Linked DNA regions of Homo sapiens. The protein of the gene in region 1 purifies or fractionates together with the protein of each later gene. This does not show direct contact. Each region holds a gene or a part of one and is shown in the gene's direction. Other genes may lie near its edges.

What was found.
Region 2: the proteins of ABLIM3 (region 1) and TARBP1 purify together in Homo sapiens (affinity purification with mass spectrometry; one large-scale study listed by BioGRID and IntAct). This does not show direct contact.

What each region holds. Positions count from the first base shown.
Region 1 is NC_000005.10:149,147,993-149,151,492, forward strand, and holds part of ABLIM3 (actin-binding LIM protein 3), read left to right. Parts: intron 1-3,500. UniProt on the Homo sapiens protein: May act as scaffold protein. May stimulate ABRA activity and ABRA-dependent SRF transcriptional activity.
Region 2 is NC_000001.11:234,458,680-234,462,179, reverse strand, and holds part of TARBP1 (tRNA (guanosine(18)-2'-O)-methyltransferase TARBP1), read left to right. Parts: intron 1-1,783; coding exon 1,784-1,919; intron 1,920-2,853; coding exon 2,854-2,950; intron 2,951-3,500.

The sequences.
Region 1 (3,500 bases):
CAGGTCACGCAACCTCTCAGACTTCAGTCACATCCTTCTCATGAATTGAGAAGCACACCTGAAGTGTGATTTTTTAAGGATTAAATGGGATTATGAGGAGATGTTTTATAAACATTTGTAAATTGTTTTTACTAATAAAAAAATGCTTAGATTACAAAAACAAGAGCATGCTTAGTCAGTGGCTCTTCAGAGTGAATTTTAGTTTCATTAGAATCCTTTCTTCTGAAATCTAGCTGAATATTAAGAAAGGGGTAATTTTGGAGATGCTGGAGTGAGGTGGTGGGCAGACCTAGGTAGAGCACAGCAGGTGGGGTCTGGTCCTTATTCAGGAGAAAATAGACACCAAACATGTGAGCAGGACACCCCAGGCTTGGAAAGGCCTGGGCTCATACTGAGTCAGTACACTCGCTTCGCTGAAGGACTTCAGAGGAAAGGAGGGAAACTGGCCAATCATTGCCACTTTGTCTTCTGTAGGGTAGATCCAACATCCAGCCTTTCTTTCTCTCATGAACTCTCAACCTATTCCAAGGATCTCTCATTTGTCTCCTGACCTACTGAGGCAGCCTCTAACTGGCCTCCTTTCATCCATGCCAGCCCCCTTCAGCGATCGGCCGCATCCCTACTCTGTATCACACTCTGCTTAAAGTGAGGCTCCCATGCTCCCAGGGTGAGAAAGGAAACTCCTCAGCAAGCCTGTAAGGCCCGATGTGGCCTGCTCCTGGCCTTGCTGACCAGCCCCATCTTGTCTACAGTGCACAGTTCTCAGTGTCCTTGTCACATGTGCCTTCTCCCATTCCCTCTAAGGGTTTGCTCCTGCTGACTTTACATGCATGGTTCCTTCTGCCGAGAAAGCCCTTTCCCCACTAGCACCAGCCCCTCTGCCCAGCCCCACACTTCACACTTCACCAAGGCTGGCCTCCTCACCCTCCAGAGCATCAAGTGCACCAAGATCAATGGTACCACATACTGCTCCTACTCATTTTATAGGCTTCCTCCTGCCTCTAGCCCCTTTGTTGGTCTTTACCATGGATTTGTATGCTAACAAATTACTTTTTTAGAGTAGACTTTGTTCTGTTGAAGAGAGTATTGAAGGGTCAAATAACTCCCACAAAGATGTCATGGGATAAGTAGAGACCATGCTGGGACAGCAAGAACCTGAGCTTTGGGGTATGGATTCTCGAGTTCAAACTCAAGATCTATCATGTACTCTCTCTGTGGTCTTGGACAGAATAGATCATGTCTCTGAGCTAAATTTTACCATGTATAAAATATGAGCAATAAATGCCAAGGTGCAGGGTTCTTCTAAGGATTCAGCGAAATAACATTAGAAACTCACAGGCATTGGGTCTCAGTGAATGGAGTTGAGTCTGAAGTTGAGTTGACTGTTGAGTAAAGCAAAGTTCTGGAAAGATGGTGTCATTAAAACTAAATCCTCTGATTAAAAATTAGTCTGTTCTTCTGGTATTACAGTAGGTGATGGATTTTCTACATAGGAAACTCATAGCTCCCGGGAAGCCTACAGGAAGCTTATTAACCTGGCATTGTATATGGCATGGGTTGAAAAAGGGAAGACAGGAAGTTAGGATCCCAATTGTCCTAGTTCAGAAAACGTCTCGGGCCAAAATTTGGATGGTTATAAAACTAGAAATAAGGGGAAAAATCTTTTAGAAAATAAAGACTGCATGGCCTAGCCACTGATTGTTTTATAAGGCAAAGAGGAAAAGGAGGATTCTATTAGGTAGGGTCTTGGCAGAGAACAGATTGGCAGTTTGAGAGGAGTTAAATGGAAGGACTCTTCACAAGTGTGTGAGAAGGACATTAAGAAACAAACAAAGAGAAGCAAGCATGACCCAGTACCAGGAGCCTAGTAACTGTGGCTCATGACCCACTGCTACCACAACTGCCCCTAGCTGGACCCAGAGACCCAGCTGGCTATGGGGTGAAGGCTGCCTGACAGGAACTGTGGCTGTGGCCCCAGGAAGGCAGCCAGCCTAGTTCCAAGGAAAGAACTAGGAGGATAAATATCCTGATCCTCCTCTTCTCTCTCCCTCAGATCTCCTATGGGTACCTCCCATTGGTCAAATCCAATCAGGAGCCAGAGGGCAAGGAAGGCATTTGATAGGTTCATAATGGTCAGCAGCTTCCCAGGGCACAGTCCAGAGTAGGGAAGCAGGCAGAACGGATCTGGAGAGGTGAGGGAGTTCAGAATAGAAGACACCCAGCACACGGGGCATGATGACCTTCCTCTGCTAATGCCATTGCCCAGATCAAGAAATCTAAGGATCCCTGAAGACAGGATCCTGACACACAAGAACGCAGTAGGATGCCCTCTCTAGAAATTCTACATCTGCAAAACAGATAAAGTAGAAGTGATTATTTACTCCACAAGGATAGAGATTGTTTTAAAACAGTACTTCCCAAATGAATGAAGCAGTTGTTGACAGATGATTACCTGAGGCTAAGAAGGGGTTAGAGGAATAACGTAAGGAACAATTTTAAAATCACCCAAAATGACTATAACACATCTCAGAAAAATCACAACGTGATTTCAAGAGCACTTGGATTGCGTAAAGGAAGTGATATCAATTCTGAACTCCAGCTTTCCTATCTGGCAAAAGCTTTATCTTGCTGAGATAGCATCTGCTGTGGTGAACGGTCAACAACTGGCTATTACCCAACTTTAGGCAGAAACCATTGTAAAAGTACAGAAAACAACCAGAAGTATCTGAACACCTTCGACTTTCTGGGTATTTTGCCAGATAAATTCTTCCTTTGCAGTTCTTAAGGGCACAGACTGAAGTTAGGTTGCTGGACTCAAATTCTAGCCCTGCTTGTACTTTCTGTGTATCCTTAGGCAAGTCACTTACCTTCTCTGTGCCTCACTTCCTCATCTCTAATGATAATTACAAGGAGGCAAATAATAGTGCCTCTGTCAGAGAAGAGATATAAAGAATAAATAAGTTAGTTGTGAATTCCTTAAAACAGTGCATGGCACATAACAAAGGTTTCTGAAATAAATAGTATATATTAGTTTGCTAGGGCTACTGCACCAAAGTGCTACAAACCGGGTGGTTTAAACAACAGAAATGTATTGTTTTATAGCTCTGGTGGCTAAAAGTCCAAAACGAAGGTGTTAGCAGGGTTCCTTCTGAAAGCTGCGAGACAAATGTCTACTCGAGGCCTCTCCTTTGCTTGGAGATGGCTGCCTTTCTCCCTGAGTCTTTTCACATCACCTTTATCCATGTGTTTCTCTGTGTCCAGATTCCCCCTTCCACAGGGACACCCGTCACATTGGATTAGGACCCATCTAATGATTTCATTTTAACTTGTTTATCCCTGTAAAGACTCTATTGCCAAATACGGTTATATTCTGAGGTACTGAGGGGTAGGGCCTCAAATATGAGTTTGTGGGGACACAATTCAATCCATAATAGAGTGTTTGTTAAGGAAATGACTCCTCAAGGAGATTTTCTTGTGTTTTGGTTTCCCCTGAATGTCAG
Region 2 (3,500 bases), on another chromosome or scaffold:
ACTTGGCCATTGCCATCTTCCTAGTGTCATGAGTGAAGCGTTAGGCAAAAGATGGGATTTACTGAATTTAGTTAGTGCAAATGGAAGAAAGAAAAATTGAGGCCAGGAGTTCAAAAAGAGCAATTAAAACATTCATTCACAGTTATTTAGTCATTTTTCAGTCACCAGTTTCCAGTGAATATCTTCTGGGTGTTCTGAATGTCTTTTGTGCTAGGTATTTCAAAAGACACAAAGTCCGCGTAATATCCTTTTAGTAGCTTCTGAGGATTTCTTGAAAGTCATTCTACAACTATGTGAGAAAACAGACATTTTCACTAACTACATGAGATGAGGGTCCTTAAGAAATCACAGATTAGCAGAGAGGACAGAATGAAGCACTATCCCTTTGTATCTCAAAATAGAAATATAAATAATCGTAATTAAATCCAAGGTAGTCAAGAAACAGCCTATGAGAAAGATGTTACTGTTTGCATATACTAGAGGCCACTAACCATCAATACTTCCTATCCTGTTTTTCCTTCACATCTCAAATAGAAGAATGGCTTCTAATCATAAACAATTTTATCTTTTACTGGCCGGGTGTGGTGGCTGACGCCTGTAGTCTCAGCACTTTGGGAGGCTGAGGTGGGCAGATCACCTGAGGTTGGGAGTTTGAGACCAGCCAGCCAACATGGCCAAACCCCGTCTCTACTAAAAATACAAAAATTAGCCGGGTGTGGTGGCACATGCCTGTAATCCCAGCTACTCAGGAGGCTGAGGCAGGAGAATCACTTGAACCCAGGAGGTGGAGGTTGTAGTAGTAAGCCAAGATCAAGCCACTGCACTTCAGCCTGGGCAACAGAGTGAGACTCTGTCTCAAAACAAACAAACAAACAAAAAATTACCTTTTAAAAAAATACAGCTTCATGGGTATCAGAATCCCTATAGTACAGTAGAATACTTATCTTACTAAACTAGGAATTAAATTAACTTTTTTTTACAACAGCTTTATTGAGATAGAATTCACCCTTTTAAACCATTTGGTTTAGTGGTGTTTAGTGTATTCACAAAGTTGTACAGCTGTTACCACTGTCTAATTCCTGAATATTTTGATCACCCTCAAAAAGAAACCTCAGGTGTGTTAATAGTCGCTTCTCATTCTCTTCTACCCATAGCTCCTGGCAGCCACTGATCCTCTTTGTCTCTATAGATTTGCATATTCTCAACATTTCATGTCAGTGGAATCATACAATACGTGGCTTTTTGTGTCTGGCTTCTTTCACTAGCATAGTATTTTCAAGGTTTATCCTTGTTATGGCACGTATCAGCATTTCATTCCTTTTTGTGGCTGAATAGTATTTCACTGTATAGATATTTCACATTTTGTTCATTCATTCATTGGTAGGCATTTGGATTGTTTTCACTTTTGACTATTTGAGTAATGCTGTTATGAATGTTCATGTACAAGTTTCTGTATGAACACATCTTTGATTCTCTTGGATATATACCTGGAAGTAGAATTACCGGATCATGTGGTCCGTCTAAGTTTTGGAGGAACTGCCATATTTTTTTCCACAGCGGCTGCACCGTTTTACATTCCCACCAGCATTGTGTGAGGGTTCTGGGTTCTCCACATCCTCCCCAACTCTGAGTATTGTCTGTCCTTTAGATTATAGCCATCATAGTGTGTGGGAAGTGGAGCCTTACTATGGTTTTGACTTGTATTTCCCTAATACCTAATGGTATTGAGCTTCTTTTCATGTGCTAATTGGCAACAATGATAATTTAAAACTTTTTCTTTCAGGTAGCTTCCTATTGAAGTTTATTCGGAAGATGACAAGTAGGCATTGGTGTGCTGTTCCCATTTTGTTTCTATCTAAGGCTTTGGCAAATGTCCCAAGACATAAGGCCCTGGGTATAGATGGGCTTCTTGCTCTCAGGTAATTTACTCTGTATATGTACTTGTATGGTTATTTGCCATGACTTTCCATCAATATATATATTTTCTCCTCTGCTTTAATCTACAGTAAATGGATATAGTTAATATTGGGATTGGGATGTTTGGGCTCTTAATTTTACATAAGAAAAAAATTAAAAAATGTATTATTCGTATAGTTGAACTTATTTTGTTTTACAAATTACTAGTTTAAATGTGTACTGAAGTATGTGCTGTTGAATTTTGACCTCTTTAAATAAGGCCAGTAAGTTTTTTTTAAAATTACATTCGTAAGTAGAAAGCTAAAGATAAAATATCAAACAATAATATTTAACAGAAAGTATTTAAAAAATATTTGGTAAAAAGGAATTTTGAGGAGATGAAAAAAAGAAAAAGTATTTCAGTAAATATAAACTTCTTTAAAAGCATCTTCATTTATAGTTTTTTTTTTTTGAGCTGGAGTCTCGCTCTGTCACCCAGGCTGGAGTGCAGTGGTGCGATCTCGGCTCACTGCAACCTCTGCCTTCTGGATTCAAGCGATTCTCGTGTCTTAGCCTCCTAAGTAGCTGGGATTAAAGGTGTGCGCCATTACTCTCGACTGATTTTTGTATTTTTAGTAGAGACGGGATTGCACCATGTTGGCCAGGCTGGTCTCAAACTCCTGACCTCAGGTGACCTACCCGCCTCAATCTCTCAAAGTTGTGGGATTAGAGGTGTGAGCCACTGCGCCCGGCCTATAGTCTTATTTTTAAAAGAGACTTGTTTCATAGTAAAATTGAGCTCTTAATAGAGGCCATAATGGGAAATAACAGCTTTGAAATTCTGCAGACTTTCTGCATTAGGAAGTGTAGTTGTTATAAATCAACTTGTTGATAATCACAAATTATCAGAATTGTCTTTGGGAATACGGAACTGCATTTTTTGTGTTTCGATGTCAGGGATGTTATTCATTGCACTATGATCACACATCAGATTCTCCTGAGAGGGGCAGCCCAATGCTACCTTCTTCAAACAGCTATGAATTTGCTAGATGTGGTAAGTTTTTCTTTTGTTACTTCCATTTACAAGTCTTTCTTAGTGAGTGGGTGTACAGAAATGAGTTAACATAGCAGACCTGTGATACTGCCATTAGAAAGGCCTGCTTGTAATAAAATAATAAATGTGCTTGTAATAAAATAATACATATGATCTCTCTAAATAGTCCTTGGCTGGCACTGGGACCTTGGATTTTGGGAGGATTTACACTATCCTAACTGCTAAGAGTGGCTTATTGTATCTAAAGTGTTTGTTCAATGTGGTTTATGCTGAAAACCTGCTTTCTTTCTGAGAGTCTGGAATTTCAGTATGTATGAGGCAAAAGGTGCCTGCATGACCACGTCCCAGGAAAAGCCCGAGGCACTGAGTCTCCATTGAGCTTCCCTGGTAGACAGACTTTCACTGTGTTGTCACAGCTTGTTGCTGGGGGAGCTAAGTGTGTCCTGGGTGGCCCACTGGGAGAGGACTCTTGGAGCGTATGCCTTGTTCCCTCTCTACATTTCCCCTCATCTTCCCCTGTATCGACATTCAAGGAATATATATGGTGTGT